4 linked regions of the Homo sapiens genome follow. The protein of the gene in region 3 interacts with the protein of the main gene of each other region in a biochemical or structural test. Each region holds a gene or a part of one and is shown on either strand. Other genes may lie near its edges.

Region 1 (7,031 bases), on a different chromosome or scaffold from region 3:
TTACAGAATAGAAAATTTTCTGGAGCACAAAAGTTGACTTGAGGGGAAGAAAGGCAGTTTTTTTTTTTTTTTAAACATTTTTTAAAAGAATGAACATCTTTGCACCCAGAGAAAAAAAACTGGTATTTTAATATATATTTATATATATTTATATATATATAGAATGTAATTTTAAAGTAACATTAACCCCTTTTGTCCTCTGGTTTAGAAATGTTTTAACTCTTCCATAAAGTGAGGAAAATAGGGAAAAATGTCAACCATCTGCACCAGTAAATAATAACTATTAATATTACATATGTTCATTAATTTAAAAAAAATAATAAAACCTATTGGAGGTGCAAGGCAGGAGCATATTGTTTGGCTTCACAGGCCTCAGCCTCCTCCCAGTGCACACTTGAACCACACACACAAAGGGGAAGAAAGGCTGGTGGTAACCAGCCATAACAAAAATATATTCTTTGTATTCTATCATCCCTCAGGTTCATCTTGCATGTTTGCTTTAAACCACAAACGGCTACTGCACAGTTCTTATGTGTTCCAAGGAAAATTGTCTTTTAGGCTACGAAAGATTCAAAAAAATTGTTTTCAGTACAAAAAGTCTTGTTAAGAGAAAATAATTTTTTTGCTCCCAAAATACTACAAGGTGTCTCTAGTGTATGTCTAGTGTACTCTGTGAGAGGTTTGAATTCAAGTCTGAGTTATCGGTGCTGAGTCCCAGGTCCGTGGCGCTTGCACCATGGAGGTTTGCCATGCCTGGATTGCTAGCAAGCTGAGAAAGCATTGAATTCTGGTCCGGGCTGGCAAAATGCCCTTGTTCCATGGGGTTGGCCTGGGCAGCTACCAGTCCAGGATGTGGGGAACTTGTCTGTGGGGAAACGTGGTGTGGAGAAGGCTGAGGCTGCATCCTTGGGGAAGGACTGGAGTGGGGGGGCTGGGACTGTGGCCGTGGAGAAGGGACAGGCTGGGGAGAGCGCACTTGATTGGAGAGAGAATTAGGGATCTGCTGGCCTTGTAGGTGTGGGGACTGGGCCTGATTTGGGAGCATATGCTGCTGGGGGCTCATGGGGTTGGGCTGAACAGGGGACCCCATCTGTTGCTGAAGGAGTCGCTGCTGATAGGCCTGTAGACTGGCACCTGCCTCTGCTCCCAAGGCCTGGGGAAGCTGGCCTATCTGTCCCATATTTCCTTGTTGCATCTGTTGCATGTGATGCTGCATCCGCTGCTGCTGCTGTGGTGGGTAGCCAACTCCTTGGGGTTGCTGGAACTGGTTATGGTTGGCCATTCCAGGGCCTATTCCTGGCCCTGCTCCCTGTTGCTGCTGCTGTTGCATCATTTGCTGTCGTCTCAAGATGTCTCGGAATTGTGAAGGCATGGTGTTGTGGTTCATGTTCATCTGCTGAGCCTGGGGGCTCATCCCTCCCATGGGTGGCTGGAGTTGCTGCTGTGGTTGCTGCTGGGGCAGGCCAGCCCTCTGAACGCCCGCCTGCATTGGATTCATGTTCTGCATGGCTGGATTGGAGTGGACCCCCTGCTGACCTGGCATGGTAGGTGGCTGTAGCCCTGGCTGCCCCTGGGGCATGCCAGGCTGCCCAGGGATGGGTTGTGGATTAGAGTTGGCATACTTGGCAGCCCGCTGCTTGATGAATGCAGCCAACAGCTGGGGGTTGGCGTGAAGGATACTAAGCACCTGTTGCTGCTGCAGGGGAGAGCTGGGAGACCTGAGAGTCCGCAAAAGGTTTTGTAAGGCTTGTTGAGACACAGTGCCTGGTTTGAGTGGGCTGATACCTACCTGGCCCAATCCTGGTTGTGGAGCCATGTTCAAAGGTTGACCATGCTGGGCCACTGACATCATGGCTGGCCTTGGCATCCCAGACTGTAGTTGCTGGGGCTGAGGCAATCCTCCTTGGCTCCAGGGTGGCTGTTGCTGCATCCCTGTCGGTCCCATCCCTGGCTCCAAATGCCCACTGGGACCTCTGGTCATGGGAGGTGGGTTCATACCCATGGGGGCCATGGGAGTCATCGGGGGCATCTGGTGTTGGATTGGCCTTTGAAAAATTTGCACGTGGGCCATCTGGCGCTGCGTCTCCGCTGCTCTCTGAATCTGCATTGCCATTTCCACTGCTGCAGGTGGGGGCCCTGGAAGGGGTGGCTGAGCAGTCTGAGGAGGGGTTGGAGGGGTCACCTGGCCTGCTGCCTTACCCTGGGACACAGGGCCAGCAGCTTGAGTCCTGGGCAAGTAGGGTGGCATGCTATTGGGAGGGGTAGGCTGAGGCTGAGAAGTGGGCTGGGGCGTCTGCGGGGTGGTTGGCTGTTGGCCAGTTGGTGTCGTTGGAGTGGCAGGAGTGGGGGAAGGGAGGCCCTGTTGCTGCCCAACCACACCAGTCCGCTGCATGCTGGCCATCCTCCTGCGAAGCATTTGGGCCTGCTGTAGTCGGTGCTGCAGCTGTTGCTGCCGGAGCTTCTGCTTGATGTTTAGGCAGAACGGCACCGGGCATTTGTTCTCCTGGCAGTGCTTGGCATGGTAGCAGCAGAGGGCAATGAGCTGCTTGCAGATGGGGCACCCGCCATTGGTTTTCCGTTTGCAACCCTTGGTATGCTGCACAACCCGCTTCATCTTCTGGCAGGATGGCAGTGAGCAATTGGCATTCCGACACTGGCAAGCATGGACCAGAGACTGGATGCAGCGCTGGATACTCAGGCGGCGAGAATCGCCTGGGCTCTGGGTGGCTGCAGCCTGCTGGTTGTTGCTCTCATCATCTAAGCCAAGGCCTAGTTTCTCCATTTTGTGGTCATGGTTTTTAGTGTTATAGCAGGTGATACACAAGTCATAATCCTAGGGAAAAAACAGGAGGTGCACGTAAACTCTCCAAGATTTAAGTCATTCAAAAGTATTTTAGATATTGTTTGGGCTAGAAAAGCCCCTTTCGTAGAACAAAAACTAGCCTCTTCAGCTCTGCCCCTCAAACACGAGGCCAAGCCCCTAGCATCCCACAGGCCTCTATAAAATACGTGGCTGCATGGCCCCTCAGAACAACCCTGCGGAGCTCACCTCCTCCTTCCCACAACCCGGTGCCTACCTCACAGACAGTACAGTGCCAGCGTGTCTCCACATGGTGCTTGCATTCATTGCAGGTGTAGACAAAGCGGTCCTGGCTCTGCGTGTGCAGCTCCACCAGCATGCACATGGTGGACCACTGGGCTCTTCGGAGTGAAGAGAACTCCAGGTGCTTGTCCCTTGCCAGCGTGAGAAACGCATCCCGACCATCCATCAGATCGCAGGGGATGAGAGGATCAGGATCAACAATGGGAGGCAGGGAGTTGGCAGCAGGGCCAGCAATGAGGCGGATCACAAAGAAGACCTGAAAAACAGACAGTCTCTTTTTTTTGAGACAGGGCCTCGCTCTGTCATCCAGGCTGGAATGCAGTGGCGTGATCTTGGCTCACTACAACCTCTGCCTCCTGGGCTCAAGCAATTATCCCACCATGGCCTCCTGAATAGCTGAGACCACAGGCCCACACCACCACACCTGGCTAATTTCTGCATTTTTTGTAGAGACGAGGCTTCGCCATGTTGCCCAGGCTGGTCTCAAACTCCTAAGCTCAAGTGATCTGCCTGCCTCAGCCTCCCAGAGTGCTGGGATTACAGGTGTGAGCAGGTACAGCAGGCTGAGCACCAATGAGACTGGCGAATGCTGAGTTAGTTTCACCACCATACGCCTCCTGTTCCTTTTCCTGCTTTACCTCTTTGGTCTCTTGAGACTGACTATAAATAGAACTGAAATGCACATCCTGTGATTTTTTTCTCCTTCATTCAGTAACTCCTTCAGAGTAACAATGGTCTGGGTGAGGTATAGCACCATGCACAGTGGACATTTTGCCTCAAGGCAGTCTACTTTAAGATGCAATCCATGGTTTAACCTCAATCTAATTACAACAAACCAGACAAATCCAAATATGGAGACAGTATGAAAAACAACTGGCCTGGACTCATGAAGGTCCCCTATGCAACTTTCCTGTGTAACTTTTCCTACAGGTTTGGAAGGGAATGGAATGGATAAAAAATCTTAGTCTTTGTTGACAAAGCAATAAAATTCTTGTTCATTGAAGTTTGAAAAAACTTGTAACAACCATCAATTCTCATAACCATTAGTGTAAAAGGTATAAAAAGCTGGTATTACATATGTATTTGACATTAATTAGTATATAACTATAAACACCTATTAAAGTAATAAAATGTAAAACATCCCCTTAAGAAATTAGGAACTTGTGAGAAACTGCTGTACTGATAACAGATTATTCAACATCTGTGCACACTGGCAGCCACACTCACAGTCTCTGGCCAGCAATGTTCGCTGCTTCTGTCACCCTACAACCAGGCCAATACTTGGATTTACAACCTAAATTTAAACAGCCATGGAATGTGTCCACAATTTAAGTCAAACCTATTACAATATATTCTAAGGGCTTTTCCCAACTGCCTAGGATTCTGTGGCATTACTTACTGCTTGAAATAGCTAGTAACTATTAATTGTTAATAATCATTACCTAACGTATTAGAACTCAGGAATCCTTCCATTTCACTAGCATGGCTGAGATAATGGTTATTACCATTATTACATCGTAGCCCATTATTCTAGGCTAACAAAAAAGGGGTGGTGATGGGGGGAGCAGTGGGGGAAAAGATACTTTGAACACCTATGTATATAGGTGTTCACCATGATAACATCATTATAACAAATTCCTCTCTAAAAAAGATTTTGTTAACTATTTCTCTCCCAAAGAGACTGTTTAACCAATTTTTAGGTACGGAATTACAACCTGAAATCAAGCCTTCATTTCCCTCTCAACTTAATTACCACTTCCTATAAGAACTTGATTATATGTCTGAGAACCGAGATAGTAAAATGAGGAGTCTGACTGAACAATCGAGATTACTACCATTGGACAAACCCTGAGAGGAATTACTCTTCAATTCTCCTGGCTTTCGTTATCAATTATATGATATTAAAGAGAGAAAAAAAAAACCTTACCCAGTTATTTTCCCAAATGACTGCAAGAACAACTAAACAATGTAAATGATGAAATAACTCAAAAAGTTTTGAGAAGGGGGTTGTAAGTCCATATGTGGAAGTTTAACTTTTCTCCAATTCTATTTACTAATTCACTTTCAGAAAGGTTAAATCTTTTTATTTTTTGAAACAGAGTCTCGTTCTGTCACCCAGGCTGTAAGTGCACTGCAACCTCTGCCTCCCAGGTTCAAGTGATCCTCCCACCCCAGCATCCCAAGGATTACAGGTGTGTGCCACCACGCCAGGCTAATTTTTGTATTTTTAGTAGAGACGGGGTTTCGGTTCGCCATGTTGGCCAGGCTGGTCTCCAACTCCTGACCTCAAGTGATCCGCCTGCCTCAACCTCCAAAGTGCTGGGATTACAGGCATGAGCCACCACGCCCAGCGAACAGTCAGTGTTTTTATTCATTTCTTATTTCTTTTTCTGAGGTGGAGTTTCGCTCTTGTTGCCCAGGCTGGAGTGCAATGGAGTGACCTCGGCTCACTGCAATCTCCGCTTCTCAGGTTCAAGCAATTCTCCTGCCTCAGCCTCCTGAGTAGCTGGGATTACAGGCATGTGCCACCATGCCCAGCTAATTTTGTATTTTTAGTAGAGCAAGGTTTCACCGTGTTGGTCAGGCTGGTCTTGAACTCCTGACCTCAGGTGATCCACCCGCCTTGGCCTCCCAAAGTGCTGGGATTACAGGTGTGAGCCACCATGCCTGGCCAGAAATCTTGCCGTTTTTCCCCAACTCTGGGTGGCTGCATCTTACCTCTTTATGCTTCTCCATGGTGGCATATAGTTTCTGTGAGAGGTCGTTAGATACATTGGGCATCCCGGGTTTCTTCTTGTTGCCCCTACTCAGGCTGCTCTTATTTTTGCTGGTTTTCTTATTATTCTTCTTTTTAGCATTTTTGCTGTCTCCCTTGGTCACCTGCAGAGTAGCACAAAGGAGACAAGAAAATAAGGTTTTTGTTAAGTAATTTGGGAATAGCACAGAATATCTCCCTTCTTTGAAACTAGATATCATAATCTTATGCCTGTAACTTATTTTACTAGCTGTTCTCTTCACTTATTCTTTCTCCTTAAAGTTGTTATTTGACCTAATTTTCTCCCAGTGATCTTTAAGGCAATGGCAGCCCTTTAGCTTTTTGCCTAGAAGAGGCCACAGAATGTGCAGACCCTGTAGATTGATTGAATGTATCCCAGATTGGGGCTAGGGAACAAGGAAGGGGTGGCACTTTGGGGTAGTGAAGAGTGTATCAAAGTGGGGAGCCAGAAGACCTTGGTTTTATTTCCTTCCACTCATATTCTAAAATGTTATGAGCCTACAAATACTAAATGACAAGGCTGTAAGAGTTTGTTAACAGACTATTTAAGGGTGCCTTTTGTTAAGTTAAATTCAATGGAGGTAATTCGAGATATGCTATGGGGAAATAACTGGTGAGGTTACTAAGCCAGGCTTAGTAACTTAAATTCTGGCTCAGGCCTATTTTGTATAGCTAAGAATGGTTTTTTACATTTAAAAAGAGTGTGTTTTTAAAAGACAGAAAATATGCCAGAGATATGTGACCCACAAGGCCTATAATATTCATAACCTAGTCCTTCAGATAAGTAATCTTCTATCAGTTTTTCAGGATTTCCTTCAGTTTCTTTTATCATTTCACATTACTCAAAGTCTGAGATGCCATTTTAAAAGGGGCTCTGATGCTTTAAAAGTTTAATACCACTGAAACAGAACCCTAATAACCTCTCTAAGCCAATATTTCTTGTCCAACTTAAAGAGCTCTTTTACACCTGAAAGCTTTAAAACCCAATTGAAAGTTTAAGTGCACTTCTGGATTAAATATTAGAATCATGATAGAAGTTTCAAAGGAAACTCAATGCCCTTACATCTGTGCTTTCATTGCTGGTGTTTTCCTCTCGTTTTCTCTCTTCTTCCTCCTGTTCCAGTTCCTTAATGCTTTCTTCCAGAACATTGG
Region 2 (6,872 bases), on a different chromosome or scaffold from region 3:
AGATATGCGTTAATTCATTTTTAGTTGTCCTCAATGTTCTAAAATAGTGATGTTTGACAGAATTAATACAGTGCTCTAGTTCTTTCTGTTCAACTGGTATTTAATTAAAGATCTTGGAGGCCATCTTTCTCTCAGGCTACACCACTTAAAGGAGGAACATTACTTCCTCCATGGACAATGTGATAAGCCACATGGCAACAAAGCTGCCTCCCTAAGGTCTCTCATTTAATAGACTGCTTTACCACATATAAACTACCAGCAAAACAGATTATCACTTTAATTCACATTGATTTTACTCTTCATATCTCTGAATCACAACTCTGTCATGGGCTGCGTTCTCTCTTAACTTCTGAATTTCCAGAATTTCTGTAGTTGTAATGCTCTCCTGTATTTTTGCTTTTGTTTCATCTGGACTTCAAAAAGTTCTAATGGCATCTGATTGGGAAGATTTCTTGAATCTCTGATAACAACGCAGAAGTCTTTAAGCAATCAGAACTGCCTTGGCGCACAAACTGAAAACTCCGTTTTAAAATCTTCTGAATTAACATCTTTTGGAGAATAGCCCACTCAACTTGATATGTCATAATTTTCAATTCTAAAGGTGGCACGGATAATTTAAAGTGGCACTTGCTATTTATTACTTAAATAATTGTTCTCTTGGACGGGCTTTTGAAAGCTAGTACTTCTTAATCATTTTCGACTATATCAGAACTGTAACAGACATGTCAATTTAAGCAAACTTCATGAGCAATAAACTAACAAACAGACTCTAGGTGGTGGTATAGGTTATTTTTTATCATGATGTTTTGCACTTATAACTGCAAGAGTCAGAAAAGCCTTTAGTCTCTTCACACACTTCTTTAGTGCAAAGTTAACAATATTTTAGGGTGTTAAAATTAGCAAAATCCAAGTTCTGCAGAGTTTAGAAATGCATGTAAAAGAGGCATTAAACCTGGTTTTCAACTAACTTCCCACAGGCATTAAACCTGGTTTTTCAACTAACTCATTTGAATAAAATCAACAACGAACAGTCCTTTTTTTTTTCTGTTATGTTCTGATGTATATTTTACTCACACTCCTAGGGCACTTTTAAAGGTAAGTTTGGAAAGAGGTCTTTCTCCACCAGAGTATGAAACAGACTAGAACAACCAATCCTACAACCTGCAGGGCAGTAGCCGCTCCACTAATTGATTCTCCTTCTTTGTCTCTAGGAACTATGCCCAGGCAGAAAAAAAGTTACTGTAGGTGATGAAGCCAGTGCTCCCTGAACCAAATAAACCCTATCGACGTTACCGAACTGCCGGGCAAAACCAGAGCAACTCACTTACTTGGAAGGTGAAAAACACTTCAACATACTCCAGGCGGCAACCGACACTTAGGGGCCAGGCAGATGAAACACCATTTGTTTAAAAAGTCTATTATTTCACTGTCTCTTCAACAAAGGTGGAAAACTGATGATTAAACACTGAATAATGCCACCCACTTACTAAACCTATGATTCACTAATAAGCAGGTTCAATGCAATTCATAACTTTAAAGAATGAATTACCGAAGCCCCTTGCTTCACAAATTCCCCCAAGAAACAGAAAGAGCATTCATCACATATAACCCGACAACCATTTTTACTATGGACACCTACAGATGGCTTCTCTTCCTCTAAGGACACAATTTCCTTCACAATCCCACATGTAATCATTTACAATACCAGAAACAAACTCCAACTCAGTTCCACCAACTGGGTTTTTAAAAATCCTTGTGCCTAAGAACGTCTTTTTTCCCCAAAGTAAAATGTGCCATTAAAAAATATTTTTAAAACGCAAAAGTGCTTATCATTCCGTACTTCTTTTACTACCTTCAGCAGCCAATTATTGACGTGATAAAAGGTAGAAACTCCTGGAATGCTTCAGAGATCAACATGTGTCACAGACTCCCAGCCTGTCCGCCTCTAAGACACAGTTGGTTCCTTTGTTCCTTCTGACTGAACACCAACTCCTGATCAAAATTGGGAAACTACTTTGGAAGGGATGGGAGGGTCTGCAGAATACATCCACGGAAACCTTCATAAAACAATATTCAATCGTAATAAGGTGGACACAGAAGAAGGGAGAAAAGGCAGCCTCCCGGACTTCCACCGGGCTCACCCTAAATGGGGGCCGGCCCCTGGCTCCTGGTAAAATGATGGCTGAGGCCTCGGGTCCGTGAGCCTCGCCATCGGGAGGGGACCGCGAGTGCGGGCAGAGCGGCCCGGGGTCGGGTGGGGGCCGGGCGAGCTGTCCCTTTTCCTATTCACTTTCCCAGCCGGGTATCCAGCGAGCAAGGAGCAGGGAGGCACCCAGGCGAAAGGCGCCGCCCAGGATCCGGCTGGACAGCAGGACGGAGAGCGGCGAGGCGAGCGGTGCCCGGGGTTCGGGACCGAGAGGGCAAGCGAGCGGGGGCAACCCCGACCCGGCCCCCCGAGTCCGGCCCCGCTCAGGGGCCACGCGACGGCCGCCCCCTTGCCCAGAACTGGCACGGACGGGCGGGCCGACCCGGGGCCACTCCACAACTTGCCGGCCCGCCGCCCCGGCCCCCCGCGAGAACCCGGAGACTCGAACCAGGCAGCAGAGGCAGGATTTCCCCGGAAACGCGCCCTCCCCGCCGCCCCGACGCCCCCGCGGCCCTGCCAGCCAAGCGAGAGCCGACGCGGGCCGCGCTCCCGGGCCGTTTCCGGCGGCGCCGGCGGCCGCTACTCCTGGCGCCCTGGCCGCGGCCGTCACTCACCCCAGGCCGCCGCGGCTCCCAGCCTCCGGCTCCGTCAGGCTCGGTCCGCGAAGGCGCCTGCCGCCCCGTCCTGGCCCGGCGCCCCGGCGAGCTCTTCCCTCCGACCAGCGGCGCTCACGGCGCAGCGGCGGACGCGAGGCCACGGGCGGACGGGCGCGCGCGGGTGGCGGGCGGGCGTGGGGCCGGGTCGTCCCTGCGCCTCGCCGCCGCCTCCTCCGCCGCCGCCTCCCGAGTTCGGGGCTCTGCTGCAATGTCTGCGAGGCTGACTTTGAGCGCCTCGCTCACCGCCCGCCCGCAGCCGCGCTCCTCCCTCCGCCGCCGAGTCCGCCGCGGCCCAGTCCCTCCCCTCGCCGCCCCACGCCATTCAGCTCTTCAGCCAAGTTTCTTAACCCTTTTCTCCCCCTCCCTCCCATTGTCACCCGGTCAGGAGGAAGCCGCGCGGATCCGGGCGGCTCACAGGAGCTGCGGAACCCCCTCTGTTTCGTGGATTTCCTTCTCGCCTGCTCTCCGGGTGTCCCAGACGGGGCTGCAAGACCCGGAGGCAGCGAGAGGACCGCGTCCCCGAGAGAGGGGCTGCACGGCGCGCCCGGGCCGTCCCCCGGGCTCCCAGCTCTGTCCAGCCGCCCGCGACCGCTGCAGGCGCCTGGACAGCTCCTCCTGGGGACCGGGGAAAGCGCTCTTGGGACCCAGGCCGAATGCTCCCGTTTGGGCACAGCCTGGGGGCCGGGGCGCCCCAGACGCTCCAGGGTCCCCGCCTGCCTTAAGCGTCTACCTCCTCCCCTTCACCCCACAACACGCGCTCTCTGGGCCCCCTTTCACCCACCCACCCCCAATTTCTATCTCCTTGTAATCTGTGTGTCCTGCTTTAATGTTGGGGGGCACGGGCGCGAACTCTGGGTCACTTTGACCCCACGCCCAGCACGTAGTAGGCGCCCAGCACTCGTGTGGAGCGACTCTGGGAGGAAAACTAGGAAGGAGACCTGAGGAGCGCCCCGCTCAGCTCCCTGGACAGACGTAGGACCCAGGAGCAGGGTTAATCCTCGGCTGCTTTGTCACTGCGAAGTCTCCAGCGGAGTCTGTCAGCCAATCTGCATCATCCCCGGGAAGGATCTGACCCAACAAGACAAGGGAAAAGGAGCAGGGCTGCTACTTCTTCAGCAGCTCTCCTCGGTTCGGTCTCCGAATAAGAAATAACAATTACATCACGAGGCCGGGGCGGCAGCGCGGTGGAGCCTCTCGGTTTCCTGCAGCCTAATCTCACTGAACCCGCCTCTAAATTGGGGGGGCCACAGATTGGTGAAACGAGAAAGTGGAAGGAGGAGAGAGTCATACGAAACCATAATTTCCCCTTATCCTTGTATTTGCTGTTTGAAAAATCGTATCCTCAACGCTCCCCAGACATCTCACTAGAACTATTAACACCCCCTCAACACCTCCCCAGATGTCAGGTTTCTTTTTGACTTGAGCATCTAGCATTTAGTAATTCGCCATGAAAAAAATTACCAGGGGAAGCGAGTGTTGTTGCTGAAATTGTTTTTGCTTGACACAAAAAAGCTAAAGTACAGCTTAGTCTCACCCGAAATTCTGAAACGGCATGCCCGTGTTAAAACACTTATTACATAAGACAAATGAGCCGATGAGGCACTCCATTCTTATATGTAGGTTTTCATATCCTGAAGAATTTGATAGCATTTGGAAATGAAGTTGCTAATGCGCTTAAAAAACAAAAACTATCCAAGTCATGAAACTGTATTCTGTGCCTGTTATGTAATGGCTGTATTGTGTATTGCAAATTTCACTTAACCTTTAAACAATATGAATGAGAGTTTTAGAATACTGTCACAGTCTTGAAAGTGAAAGCAATTTTTCAAATTAATGCTTAATAAATTCAGCACCCAGCACAGTGCCGGGCACATAGTGCCAATGTTTTCCTTAGTGGCAATGGCACATTTTAAAACAATTATTTTTCATCACCCTAGTGATTGAACTATGCAATCTGTTGCCATTTTATATAGTTAAACCTCATATAATATAATACCATATTATTTGCATATACCACAATTCAAAATCTGCTCTAGGCAAAATAAAGTCTGCTGTTTTTTAGTGCATCATTTATTCAGAATTGATACAAAGCAAACCGTTTCAATTCAATGATGACCAGCATAATTGGAGCTTGGCCCTTAGTGGGGGGTCAAACTTTTTTTATGAAAATTATTTTTAACCATTATACAGATTTTTCTACAATGTATTGCAAATGTTTCTCTTAAGCAGTTTGTTGAACGTCATTTAGCATTTTCTTGATAATTCAATGTTAATTTTATTAAAAGTAATTATTGTAGTAGGTTGTAGCGGATTCAGTAAATATATCCAGTTCCTATTCTATATTCTTTCTAGGTGTTAGGAATGCTCCCAGGAGGTACAAAAGCTATCAGTCGCTGCACCGAAGGACTCTAGGATGCTATGACTTAGTGATTATCTCTGCCTTTTGTAATTTCTCTCTCTCCCCCTTCACTAACTGACAATCTATTGTCCTTACTGTTACTAGCATAGCTGCCACTAACATTCTCCTCATCTTCTGATGGGTAACTTCCAGTCTAGTGCGGACTGGGAATCCAGATAGCCTCACTTGTCACAATTCTGTCTAAAGTAAACTTAATAGGTTCTGGGTAAGGGACTAATGGGCTCACCAAGGAGTAGGGCGCACACACACCTTAGTGCATAGACTTTGGGAAAGATATTTGGACTACTCAAGTCTATCTTTTAAATACATTCCTCTTACTTCTTAACCAGGTTTTGGACCATGGAGATTGCCCAGCAAGCCGAGAATATTCCAGCCCTCCAACATTGTTGTTAAAAAGTCCACTGCTGTATGTTAGGTGACTTCCCAAAGCTGCTCACTACTTCTTCTTATTCTGTTTTCTCAACCCCACAAAAATCCAATCACTGAAATCCTGAACTCTTTTGATAGTGGCATGAGTGTTAAGTAAATTGCACACCTCTTGTGGAATTCATTTTCACTTAATCATGCTAATTATGTGGAGACTTGTTTGTTGTTGTTCTTTGTTTTTTTAAGTAAATCAATACCTAAATTTCCTGGCTAACAGAGTCATTGCAAGGATACTAGGGCATTATATGTAATATAAGAATGCCTATTTGGTAATTTGTACTTTGAAGTCAAGTCTCATTTGAATCATTTGTGATGTGAAAACAATGCTGTTGGGTTTATATACTTAAACACCTAATTATTGTTTTACGTCCAGGGTTCCTGTGGGATCACATGCCTTTAGTTCAGTCTCAGTATACCTCTCCGCCACAAAGATGTAGTCTGGGTGTGTTCTCTAGCCTTTGGTTCTGTAGCCTTTGGTGTGTTCTCTAAATCTCTCCTCTATAGCATTTTCAAAAACCGTTTTGTTAGTGGGTATTTGCTTGTCCGTATCCCACTGTAGAATGCAAGCAGTACAGGCACAGGGTCCATATCCCTCTCATTCACATTTGGGGACTTCCAGCTACCCATCCCTGTGCCCAGCAGACAATAGACATTCAGTAGATATTGGCCAACATACTGTCATACCCCAGAGGACAGAATGTATCTTTCTCTTGGGGTCCTGGCTGTGATGTAAGGGAGTTCAGAGAACATTTTGCAGAGAAAATAATGCTTCCGCTGGCCATTAAAAGGTTAAAAGAATTAGCCATGTAGGCAAAGTGGGAAAAGAGGTTCTCAGGAGAGGACATAGACTGTTCAACAGTAGAGAGGTATGAGAAGACAAAAATATGCACTGAGAAGTATTGAGCCCATATTTACACTATGGAGTGAACTATGACACCTGAGTAGGGAGAAATATGTGTAATATAATAGATCACAGACAAATGGAACCCCACTGCAGTTACCTTATTAGCCACAGTCCCTTAGCCTCTGGAGCAGCACTGACCAATAAAAACATAAAGTGAACCACAAATGTGAGCCACATAAGGAATGTTAAATTTTCTGGTAGTTATATTCAAAAGTACAGAGGAACAGGTAAAATTAATTATAATAATGCACTTTAACCCAATACATCAAAAATTACCATTTCATGTCTATACAACATACAGAATTATTAATTAGATATTTT
Region 3 (7,002 bases):
CTATTATATTCCTTTCCATTTTAGTCCTTTTAAAAAATATTCTAGACTCACTAAACTGAGTTCATGACCCTCTGGGTCATGACAAGCAGTTTGAAAACACTGCTTTCAGCCCCAAAACTTTTGAGAACTACTTAAGAAACTTAAAGTTTCCTAAAAGAGCCCAATCAATCCTTTCCTTTATACCCAGAGTCATTTAAGCAGAAAAACTGAGAGGGGAAAAATACTAAATAATATCTGTCCATATGAAGAACTTGCATAGATGCTTCTTTTCCTTGCTGGATAATAACAGGCAGAATTCTAACAAAAGAGGAAAGATAATCCGGGAAATAAAACACAGGAAAAATCATTCTAAAACTGAATTTCCACACAGAGTCCCATTTGTGCAAGTTTTTTTTTTAATTTTTAAGTTCCTTGTCTCTTTTTTTATTATTCTAAGAGTGTTTGAATATCATGTAATGCAGAAAGTGTAAGATAGGGCATATTACACTGATACCACTTATCACTGGGATGATGAACAATTTTGAATAAGATGCGATCCCCTCTGTATTTGACCAGGTTCACTTTGTAATTATTAGCAAGGCAGTAAATAATCTACCAAGGAGCAGTCTCATTAGTGCCCATTGAAATTCAGCAGCATTAATTTGCAATAAAAGAACTGAAAATTAAATAGGGAAGAAAATGGTTTCTGGAGTCCATCATAAGGTTATGGAATTCACATCATACCAGTGCCTTCCTTCACATCAAGCAGTTTTAAATGTTGTGTGGAATTAGACTTAATCGCTGTACTTTGTTCTTCCATTTAAAAAAAAAAAGGTGGGCAGAAGAAATCCTTTTTCTCTGTTTTAACCCTAAATTAAAACAAGTAAAATTAATTTGAAATATGCCAACCTTTAAAAGTTTTGTTCATTGTTTGTCTTTTGAGTAAAGACAGCTTGGATCTGCGTGGCTGTGGGATGCTCTAAATTTCTCCAAGGCGGCTGAAGATGCACACTGAATACCCCCAGAATCTGCCCTTCAGTATCCTCTGGGGCCAAACTGCACTTTAGTCCCCTTCCTTCTGCTATAAATATCCCTGGAAACAGAATACTGAACAAAAACTGGTCCACGGCTTACAAGGCAGAAAGATATAGGGACACCAGTCCGGATACCAGTGTACAGTTGGGAAATGCCTAATTCAGGACCCAGCCATGTGGCGCCCTGAAGCTTCCAAACCCAGTCCGGGGTACACCTGTCCTGTGGCCACCTAGGAAGGTGTTCACCAGAAGCGCCCACCTAATCCCTCTGCAGGCCCATCAGGAAAACAAAAAACAAAAAACAAAAGGAGAAACTGGGCAAGAGAAAATGGGAGGGAGAGGAGAGGGAGAAAGAACAATTCTTGTAGGGAAAAAAATTAAAATGAGGACACACAACCTTCGCCATTGAAGTCACAAAGTGGTCTCCTGTGTCCTGGACCGGCCGCGCTCCTTCCACAGTGGCTGCGAGGCGCAGACCCTGGCTGACCCGCACGCCACTCCGGGGCATTCTCCCCGGGTGGGACAGGCTTGTCACTGGGCTGGCAGGAGATTATTTTTAAGCACTTGTGCTTCCATATGGCTTGTTTTAAACTCGCGGGACACCTACAAATTTCCGGCTGTCAGAAGTCACATGCCAGCAATCCGCTCCAGCGCGGACTCAGCCAGCTAACTCCGAAATCAGACCCATTCAACTCCCAATCGCTCTCTAAAGCCCCAGGACGTGGGGTGGGGAGGAGGGGAAAGCGGGTGACAGGAATCGCTTCCCAGAAAGTCATCATCATAGCTGACATATTTCCAATCAAATAGTCTAGATGAAAGGAAATTTGGGGAGCACATTAAACAAAAACATTAAAAGGATAAATAAAACTCTGCTGAGCTCTGCTAACTCCAAACACCCCCAACTTTAAATGCCAAGAGCGAGACCTTCCCAAGTGACTCAAAGCGCCCCGTGTTTATTTGCCTGGAGGTGTTTTCCCCCACAAATAACTGCTGCTTTGTCTGGTTTTCCAACGTGTGTTTTGTTAGGAAGCCCGGGCTTTCGGGTCTGCCTCTCGCACGGACGGTAAGTGGGTGGAGAGTACGTTTTTTTCAGCTGCCCGGCGAGAGAACTTGACTCTGAACGCAGCGCGGGCTGCACGCAGAACCCCCGGGCTGGGCCGCGCGCCCCGGGCTCCCTGCGCGCACCCTCGGGTCGCGCGTCCCGCGGCTCCCGCAGCTCCCTAGGCTCTCCCTTCTCCCTCCCTCCCTCCCTCCCTCCTGCCGGGCGCGGCGGCCACCCCGACGGGCGGCGCGGGCGCGGGTACCTGTAGAATGCCGGCGGGCCGGCCTCGCGCACCGTGTAGCCGCTGGGCTCGTTCTCCAGGTAGTAGGGCACCTGCTGGCCGTGGGGCTGCAGGAAAGGCGACAGCTGCGGCGGCGGGTGCAGTAGCATCAGCGGGCTCGGAGACACGCTGTTGAGTGGGGGGAAACCCCCCAGGCCGTTGGAGCCGAACGCCGCAGCCTCAGACCCGGGGCCGTAGGGGAGGCCGGTCTGACCGTAGACCTGCGCGTTGGCGGCGGCCGCGGCGTTGAACTCGTAGGCGGCGCCCTCGGGGTAGTTGTACACGGCGGGCTTGCTGCTGTCCAGGTACACCTCGCCCAGGGGCCGCTCCAGGGGGATCTTGAGCTGCGGACGGTTCAGGGGCTCCAGCTCGTTCCCTTGGATCTGATGCAGTAGGGCCATCCCAGATGCTTTGGTGTGGAGGGTCATGGTCATGGTCCGTGGCCGCGGGCAGGGTGCAGACCGTGTCCCCGCAGGGCAGAAGGCTCAGAAACCGGCGGGCCACCTGGAAAAAGAGCACAGCCCGAGGTTAGAGGCGACGCAGCGCATGTCCCGCCGACACGCGAGCTCTGGCCCCGGCCCTGCCCCGGGAGCCTGCGGGTCCGGTGAAGCCGGGCGACCCGACGGGAGCAAGTGCAGTCCCAGGACGAACGCCCTCCGCCAGCTCCTGGGCTCCCGGGCCTCCAACTTTAAGTACTGGTCTCCCGAGCTCATATGCATTACAAAGGTGCTGGAGGACGGCCAGGGACTGTTGCCTTGCCCTGACATTGGCTTAAACATCACTCCAGGCACAACTCGATTTGGAGCGATCCCAAAGAGCAGCTTCCCTGAACTTTACTTTACTTGTCGTCGCTGCTGGATAGAGGCTGAGTTTCACGGCCAGGGGGCGGGGGCGCACGAGGATCTGCTAAAGGTGGCCCAGGGAAGACTGGGCTTAAAATAAACGCGAAAGACGGATCCAGGGGCCGGCTTTCTCTAATGTGCTGCCTTATGTGCCCCGTGCCAGACTCCGATATATCTCTGTTTGTCTCTCTTTCTGTTTGATTCCCCCTCCTCGTTGGCTAGAAATACGTAGTGTGTACATAGGATGACCCTGGGGAGGACTACACTGTAACCGAGATAGGGCAGATAGAATGGGGTGTGCGGTTGCATACGCAGCCAGCCACAGACAGCTATATTTAGCAGCTGGGGGAACTGACAGGGGGCATCTGAGGGGAAGGGGGCGGAGATTCAGGGTATACATATAGGAAGAGCTGCATTTTGCCATCAGGAGAATGCAACCTGCCAGGACCTCAGTTTCTTCCTCTGCAAAATGCTCCCAAAGTAGATAGACCCTTCCACAACCTTCTGAGATTCTCTCAGCCTGACTTGTGTGTTTATGTTGGACCACAGTACTGTACTTGGTCCCATTAGGAATTCTCATGTGAAGGATGATTCAGAAAAACCTTTGGTTAGGGCGCACATGGGTGTTCATGCCTTCCACAGGTTGGTTATGCAACCAAAACTTCAGAAAACTGAATATAAAATGTGACCTTTTCATACCAAACATAACCTCAGGTCACGAACCAAAGCTTTGGCAATTATGTTACATTGTCGGTCTGGTCCAGCTAACAGATTTTTAAAATGCATTTCTGCATGTCTATCCTTTAGTCCTACAACTCGATCTTCTCGGTTCACTTGGGCTAGGATATGCAGAATCAAATATCCAGATGAAAAACAAATAGAAAAAAGTTTTTAACTGAATTAAAAGTTAAACATGCACACGCACATACACACACACATATATGTGTATATATATATATATATATATATATATACATATTAAGGAGACAAAAAATAGGTGAAGTATATCATGCGTCTATAATCTTGGATAGTTTATACTTTTGAATAAACTTCCTTTGCTGCAGCCTAATAGACTCTGATACAACTATCAATACTTTGTTTTAATTGCTATCCCAAACACCCAACAGAGTATCTGACGAAGTGTTCATGGTCTATCTAAATGCCAAGCTTACTGTTACTAAGAGTTACATTTTTGACTATTTTATATCAAGTATACATTTTATCTAATTCTTACAAAAATAGACCATTGTTGGACAATATGCAAATGTAGCTGAAGCCAAAATCGAGTTTAGCATTAATGACTATAGATTGTCAGCAAATAAAGGGTTAAAAACACATTAGGTGCATCGCAGATATTTCCCTTTATGGCCAGCAATCATTACTTTCCAAAGCAATTTTTTACAGATGATTTAATTTCCATAAATCACACTTTCAATTTTCAAATGCCTTTTTAAAACACATGCAAAAAGCACTTCATAGGGCTCTTAAAAAATGTGAACCTGCCAAATTATATGCAAATGGCACAAAGAATCCTACAAGTCCTGAAAGAAAAAGGAGACACACACATACCCCCATGGAGAACAGCAATCCTCATCTCCCTGCTAGGATACAGACACTAGCCAGAAAGGTAAGTTGCTTTCTCAAAATGCTAAAGCTACAGAGAGAGAAATCAAAACAAGCCTACCCTGCTGGATCAAGAACGTCTTTCCAGAAATGTTCCATGGGCTTGTAGAAGTCAAGGGCCGAGAGAGTGAGAAGGAAGGAAGGAATGTGCTCGCATGTGCGAGTGGCTCAGTGTGTGAACTAGGCAGAGAGAGTGTGTGGATGTGTTTGTGCGTGGAATGGCAGGGATTCGGGAAGCAGCCAGTAGGCAGGGCACTTGGCAGCCCCTCCCGGCAGACACGCAGCTGGGCTACTGCACAGCGCTGGATGAATGGCAGTGGGGAGTGAGGGGAGACTTGCTGTCTGCTCACAGGGAGCAGTGTGGCACAGCCAGAGAAAGCTGTACTGGGGAGGAGAAACCCCAGCCCCTTTGCCCCTACCCTTGGAGGCTGGAAAGTACCCTATGCTTTCTGCTGCCACCCCAAGCAAGAGGAAAAACAGGCTTGCTGTGAATCATAGTCTTACGGCTAAAATAGAATGCCAGTCAAAAGTGTATGGATATCAAGTTTACAAAATAGGACATGGGTGGTTTTTCCGAAAGAATATAATTTAACAATAAAAGCCTTCTGGGATACATGTGGATCAAATGCCTTACTGGCCCTAGCCCCCAGTCTCTGAACAGAGGCATTGCCATGCCTCCGATTGCACCAGGAAACCAGACTTTGGAATAAATGTTTTGGCATTCTAGGGATGTGTTTCCAGCTGAAATGTAATACTCCTCCACTTCGTTAACCAAACCCACAAACCTTTCCATGAATAGCTCAGTTGACTGCTTTCTGTAAACATGTGAAAAATACGTATTATTAAAAGCCTAGGATATGAACATAAGATAAAGGTAGATACCTTTGTTTTAAACTGATTTTAGGCTTTCGAGTTGCACTGACCGTGATTGGGAACGAGGTCTCTCATTTCCCAGTGGCGTTCACATGGATCCACCTCTTGACCACTTTCTCAACTATTCTCTCGGCCATAGTACTAACACGCAATACTGAGGTGCTCCTAGAGTGCCCACGCTCAGGGTCCCAGGACACATGACACCCAATGGAGGCTTTGTTGCCAGACATTAGTCACCACCTTGGATATTAAATGACTCTAATCACAATGCCAGGAGTGGCCGGTCTCTGGCCCTGGGACACTATGCAGTTACTGAGAGATTTATGAGTGGCTCTTGAGACCAGTACAAAAAAGAAATAGAAAGCCATAAAAATGTTAATGATGCCATCATGCAAATATATGTTTTTGTGCTTTGAAAGACCCCCAGTATTGCAGTGTTTGAGCACAGGAGAGCTCTCTCCATAGTCAGTATTGAAAATAAATACTGGATATAAATAAATATTGAAAAGAAAGACTGTTACCCTTTGTTGGTGACAGTGGTGCCTCCTGTAGGTCAACAATGGCCACCCATGCTCTAGACCAGTCCCAGAAAAAAGCAAGAGTATTCAGGGAGGGAGGAGAGAGGAACAGGGGAAAGGAGAAGGAAAGGAAAGGGGATCTGCAATTGTTCACTATTGACATAGGAAGAATAAGAAGGTTAGCTGTCTCCTCACAGGCTTTGATTGTTCAGAGACTTACAATCAAAGTTAGCCCAAGAAGTTCAGTAAAGGCAGTTTTCTTAACCACTTTCTCTCCAGCATTCTCTTCCAAACTCATCTTGGTGAGCCTTGTCCCTGGGCTTGGTGAGCATGGGTGGGAAAGTATACTGTGCTACGCCGACTTTCCTCTTCTGCCTTTGGCAAAAACTTCACTCGGGCTCCCAGCTCTCTTGGCTTCCCTCCCTACCCTCTCCTGCTGGACACACACGTTCCAGCCGTGACTTACTGGCTCTCTCAGGTGAAGAAGGGTAAAGATTGATCTGGCTCCTCCGTTGAATGTGTCTCCAGCCCCACTTTTCCAGCGGTCTGCTGGGCATTGCAGGCTTGTTCAAATATGAGTCACCATTCTCAAACATGGTGTTCCTCTCAACTTCCCCGTGTCTGTGCCCAGCATCACTGTCTCTCCAGCCACCCAGATTAAAATCTCACTGTCTTCTTCGAGGGCTGATTTTCCCTTGCCTTCCACACCTAATCAAGAGGCAATTCCTAAGCCTTCTAGCTTTACAATCTCTCTTTTTCCATTGCATTTCGGCCACTCCCTTTGAGACCCATTACCTTACCTGTCCTAACG
Region 4 (5,802 bases), on a different chromosome or scaffold from region 3:
CACGCCCATCTAATTTTTTGTATTTTTAGTAGACAGTTTCACCGTGTTAGCCAGGATGGTCTCGATCTCCTGACCTCGTGATCCACCCACCTCAGCCTCCCAAAGTGCTGGGATTACAAGCGTGAGCCACCACACCTGGCCACGATGTCAGTTTCTTAATTTTGACAATGTACCATGGTAATATGTTAACAATGAGGGAAACGGGTAAGGATTATATGGAAACTCTGTTCTAGCTTTACAACTTTTCTGTAAATCTAAAATTATTCCAAAATAAAAAAGCATATGAGAAAAAAAATAAAGTTAGTGTTGCCTGTTTGTCTTGGTCCTCCACATTTCCGTGTAGTTGTGGCACATTGATCTGGTCATGAAACCATTTACCCGGGAGTTAAATATAGGGCAATTGCACTAATTAACATGTATGGAGCACAACACAGTGTAGCTGGAAACCTTTGTTAGGTTCAGAGTATGAAGTTACAAACGTACACTCTCACCATTCCCAACCCTCTTCAATACACCAGAGACATGGTTTTTTATTAAAAAACTTTTTAATTGGTTTACAAAGGAGGCTACAGACTACATTGAAACTAATCTTTGTACAAAAGGCCAAAAAAAAAAAAAAAAAAGTCCCAAAACACCAAGAGACAAAAGGTAGGAGGAAAGACAAGAAAGGAAGATACAAAAGGAGCAGGAAGAAACTTACTTAGGGACAAGATTAGCATCATACATACCTAAGAGTGGGGGGTGAGGGGGAAGAACAAGATGAGAGAGCATTTAAAAGCATTTACCCACACAGCCCTGGTGATAATTGGATTGGAATCAAAACAAACACAGCATGAGATTATTAAGAGGTTTTAAAAGGCAACAGTGGTGTGGACTGGTTATTGCCAGTGTTAAGAGAGAAATAAACTTGGGTTTTTAGGCACCAGAGATTGGAGCACCACCCATCCCTTCCAGAGGATGACAGACTTAGGAAGGGGAAGCAGGCCCTGGGGCAGCTGCCACTGGTGTGTGTAGATGTCTCCTCAGGTCAATCTCAGTGTATCTTCCCCGAAGTCTTTGTGCCCTAGACTCTAGGTAAGGGCTATGGGATTTCACTGGGAGAAAGGGATGATCAAAAATATGAAGACCTGCCCTTGTCCACAATGTTCAAGAGCAGTTACCGGGAAACTGGAGCACTGGGTAGACAGAGCCCATATCCCTGGGGAAAAGGCACAGTGTAATTCCTGAAGGCAAGATATGGGAAAGCACACATCCCAGCAGAGGTATCAACAAAATCCTCACTACTTGCAGCCCTAGTCTAATCCCATTTGTTAGGCTTTTTTTTTTTTTTTTTCCCCTGATACTTAGCTAGGACTTAGGGCAGTTGAGAGGCAGATCATCATGCCTCTACTTTCTTAGCAGAGACAAGGAAGACTGGGGCTGTTTGATAATGAGGAAGGGGAAAATGGGACAAAATACTCCTCTTTCAAATGAACACTGTGGAGAAAATCTTTCTGGGTTTGGGGAAGTCAGAGTAAAGACTTAGGGGAGTAATAAAGCCAGAGACCCCCCTTCTTTTCCTTTCCCTGCCTTGGATCTAAGGCAAGTGAGCCAAATTTGGAAGAGGGAGTAGGAATTTAAGCTTAAGGCTGCTTAATGTCTTCCTGGGGGCTGGTGTTTTGGGAAGGCAGACAAAGAGAAACAGGTCAACCTCAAAGCTGGTCTGCTCATCCTCTTAGAAGAGGTCTGGTATCTGTGGAGTAGAGCCAAGAGAGGCACCACAGAGAGCACAGTCTCCCAAACAGAAGTAATAACCGGCTCATATTTTATCAGCAGTTTTCAAAAGCAATGTTTTCCGGGGTTGGAGAAGTGCCATATCTTCCTCCCTTTCCCCAAAGCTACTGCTGCGACCTTTCTTTCATCCTTGTACATAAGTTACTGGCTCTCTTCTAAGGGAGATAAATTCTGAGATTTCACATTTTCCCTCTCAACCCCAATAGGCTACCCAGCTTCAGTGAGGGGGAAGGAGAGCTATGCAAAGGGCCCCTCACTTGAGGCAGCTAGACTGTCCTTATTTCCTTGGTACCTGATCTCCAAAACTCTTGATCTGATCCCAAGGTCCAAAAGGCATCAGGGTACTTACACTGAAAACTTCAAGCAAGTAGCACCAGGGCTCCCCCTAAGCATAACAGGGGCCTGATTAGCACCCCAGAAGAACCCCTCAAAAAGTATATAAATTTATTGCGTCCTAGCAAAGATCTGCAGCTTCCAGTATTCACACAATGTGAAGATATTAACAATACAAAATATATTTTGAAAGTCAAACACCTGTAGTTCATAGTGCTTTTTTAGATTTGTTAAAAAAAATACAATGCTTAGTTTCCTATATAGGATATACAAAAGCAAAAAATATATATGTATATAGTAGAAATAAATCAGCCATAGTAATTTACAGCTTTTGTCTCCAACCCTCCCCTAATCATAATCTTTATCCCACACTTCAGTATATACTTTCTGGGATCAAAGGATCAATTTATTCTGAACCAGGCTGAGAAATATCCATTAAATTGCATTCTGTGTAGCACCCACAGAGTGCCAGTTGGAAATCCCTGAAGGAAGACGGTGTGGGTTGTTACTGTTCTGGGTAAAAAGTGAGACAGTCAAATGACATGTAAATGAATATAAATGGGCAACCTGAAAACCTGAAAGGATGAGGGAATAAGTGTTTTACTATCTCACCACTCTTCTGGGCATCCCCTGCCCTGCAAGTTTTGGTCATCTAAAAAATTTAAAAAACTCATTCAAAAAAATGAAAAAAACTTAGGAAAAAAATTTCAGAATCAATATGCATGTCAGTTAAATTAATTTCTGTTAGCCAAAAGTTCAGGGAAACGGGGTTTTTCTGTAATAAGCTCCTGACTCAAGGAATGTAGGCTCCAAACTTCCTGTGGAAGAGACTGAGTGGCTCACTACTGCTGGGAGACAAAAGAAGCTGCTTCTGTTTTGAGGCCAAACAAGATACTGGATCTGGAGCTTCCTTGGTGTGAAGAGAACAGGGCAAGTGGAAATAATTAGATATAAATTCACTCATGGTAATGCTAATGAATAGGGTTGAGGGTAAACCAGCAGCTTTTCATTCGAGAAAGAAATACCATCAAATTACCTTCTAAAAGCTTATATCCTCAGCATCATTACATTATTTTATATCTGGTAATTTCATACTGGAGAAGATTCCATTCCTTGAAATGCACTAGCAAAATACTGTACATTCCAGTGAGTTATCCTGCCCCTTTCCTCCAAAAGATGCCAAAGTACATGATTACAGACATAAAATAACAGGTTCTGAGTTCTGCCTTTCAGTGAGAATAAAGGGTATGATAGTGGCTGTGCATGGATGACTTGTATCTCAGCGTTAATAGAATTTGATCTGGGGAAAGTTCCTTGCCATAGTTCCTGAGTTGAAAACATAATTACATCTGTGGAGAAAGGACCAAATGGAGTGAACTATTGTTTAGAGTATTAAGTTACTATAGTTCAGATTAAACAACACACTTACCCAAAACTTAATTTGGATGGATTTTATATAAAATATATAATAGAATCATACCATCATCTATTTGTAGCCAAAGTAAAAAGATTTATGAGAAGAATAAGGACTCTGCTATAGATCTGGATGTTGGTTTCACTTTCAAACACAAAAATAGTTTCTTTTTAAAAAAGTACAGTAGAATATCCTCCATTCATAATTGTAATTAATTTAGCATAAGCAAAGAAATGACCTTAGGAACATACCCAGGTTTTAAGATAGATTTCTAGGTAATGGGCCTGAAAGGCATTTTGATCTGAATTTATTTTCCAACGATTTCAAATATAATTTGTCATCTGTGTGTAGACATATACGGGCATGAACACACATTCACCCACACATACAAAAACACTTGCTTTCTATCAGATCAGGGTAATTTTTTTATTGCAGGTCTCTTTTAATATTGGCTAGCAGAAAACCTATCCCCAACCTAACAGATTACACACACACACACACACACACACACACACACACACAGAGCTATTTTTCCACACTTCCTCACAGTGAAAAGCTCTCTAACAAGATACCAGAAGGTCGAGAGAGACAATGCTTTTATGGCTGGGCCTTGAGGACAATTCTGGTTGCATTTAAATCTCAGTGCCAAATGCACTAGGTTCCCTGCCGTTATAATTTTTGGATCAGTCTCTTCTGAAATCAGGTCACAGAGAAAACAGGATGATTTCTCCCAATCTCTCCTATAAAACACTGTGGTAAGACAAGATTTCTTTTTGTTCTGGGCTATCATTCCCATGATCATGTGCTTCCCTTTCCCTTAGGAACCACCCAAGAACATACAAGGAAAAGTTAAGGGAAAACATCATAAGAACCACTGTCTTGCCACTAGCACATGCTTTGGAGGAGTTCTGCAGAATGGAAACCTGAAACAGATTCACTGGCTGATGCTCCTTATTGACAATGGAAAAGAACCTAGTGGGGATGTTCAAAAGAAGTGTATTTCCTTTCAGAATATAAACTCAGAAGCCCACACATCAAAACTTAGAGCTACCTTGGAAGACAGCAGTACCAAAGTCCAAATACTCCACTAACTCCTGAACCTGACTACGAGTCATTTCCTCTTCTGAGCACATGATTTTCCTAGTGAAAGCCCCCTACCTATTATTTGAAAATTTGACAGTTTATACAAACTGAGCCAAGATTATTATCTTCAAAGGGACTCTTGTACAATTCCACTGAAAGACTTCTAATTCTTGATGCTCAGAGCAGCTAATGAAGGGAGATGCCTTTGACTCTCCAGCGCCAAGAAGGTGCCTGCGTCAGTAGTATTTTGAACACTCCCTCCACAGTTACTTCAAGCATCAGCCTGGGCTTCAAGGATTTTTCCATTCTGCTGCTGGAACTAAGGTCCTGAAAAAATTGACAGAAGTGCCTCATCCAGGCAGTAACAAAAACAAAACATGAAGTGATCAGATGAGAGAAGATGAGACGGCAACAGTTGAGTTAGGGAAGGAGTGCAAGAAGCTGATCCCAAACAAAAAGACAAAATTAAGAAAGGAAAAACATTATGTATGTATATATGAACTAAAAGCAGAGCATATGAACGCTTAAGCTGGTGGGAAGCCAAGACAACATCTACAGAAAAGCTTGATGTGTCACAACAAGGCTCAGCCATAGGGAAATAAGGCAATATAAAAAAAATGACCAAGGTATTTTGGTCACAGAATGGTCTTCCTCCTCCCAGCCAACCCCTGTGAATGCATCTCTATATATCTTTATATATATATATATATATATAATAATATAGAATCTGTTTTTTGTTAAAAAGTATTTCAATGATCATATATATTTATCAAGGCATGATGGCTTTAGGAAAGGGGGGGGAATCCATCATGGAAGAGCTGAGAAGAGAAATGCAGGAAGGGTAGGCTGGGGTAAGAAGTGTAAGAAGAAACTGGGGTCAAACAAATGCTCATCAAAGCGTGGCACCAACAGAATTTTCACTAATGTTTCCCACCTTCAAAGAGGCACTGATGATACAGATGGGTGCCGGGACCCCATCTCCTCTCTTGTATCCCTCTCCTGATTCTTCTCAACACCATGCATTTTAATGCTTCATGGCTCTCTCTTCCATGTCTCTTGGACCCATGCTACCTTGCATCCCGGGGTTAAGGGGTATGGCCCATATGTCTCTGGCCCCGGGTGCCTGATCTCAGAAGCCATTGCCACTGATATTAATGGACTGCAGATCTGCCACCTGCATGACGTTGATGCCACTGTTG

What was found.
Region 1: the proteins of ESR1 (region 3) and EP300 form a complex in vitro, tested with the Homo sapiens proteins (10 studies listed by BioGRID, with this or other methods).
Region 2: the proteins of ESR1 (region 3) and NRIP1 form a complex in vitro, tested with the Homo sapiens proteins (4 studies listed by BioGRID, with this or other methods).
Region 4: the proteins of ESR1 (region 3) and SP1 form a complex in vitro, tested with the Homo sapiens proteins (6 studies listed by BioGRID and IntAct).

What each region holds. Positions count from the first base shown.
Region 1 is NC_000022.11:41,172,575-41,179,605, reverse strand, and holds part of EP300 (histone acetyltransferase p300), read right to left. Parts: coding exon 6,943-7,031; intron 5,984-6,942; coding exon 5,822-5,983; intron 3,360-5,821; coding exon 3,078-3,359; intron 2,834-3,077; coding exon 650-2,833; 3' UTR 1-649. UniProt on the Homo sapiens protein: Functions as a histone acetyltransferase and regulates transcription via chromatin remodeling. Acetylates all four core histones in nucleosomes. Histone acetylation gives an epigenetic tag for transcriptional activation.
Region 2 is NC_000021.9:15,061,985-15,068,856, forward strand, and holds the start of NRIP1 (nuclear receptor-interacting protein 1), read right to left. Parts: upstream 3,017-6,872; 5' UTR 2,761-3,016; intron 2,607-2,760; exon of another isoform or gene 1,853-2,606; intron 1-1,852. UniProt on the Homo sapiens protein: Modulates transcriptional activation by steroid receptors such as NR3C1, NR3C2 and ESR1. Also modulates transcriptional repression by nuclear hormone receptors.
Region 3 is NC_000006.12:151,803,680-151,810,681, reverse strand, and holds the start of ESR1 (estrogen receptor), read right to left. Parts: upstream 3,001-7,002; 5' UTR 2,770-3,000; coding exon 2,318-2,769; intron 1,576-2,317; exon of another isoform or gene 1,411-1,575; intron 1-1,410.
Region 4 is NC_000012.12:53,411,171-53,416,972, reverse strand, and holds the end of SP1 (transcription factor Sp1), read right to left. Parts: coding exon 5,733-5,802; 3' UTR 527-5,732; downstream 1-526. UniProt on the Homo sapiens protein: Transcription factor that can activate or repress transcription in response to physiological and pathological stimuli.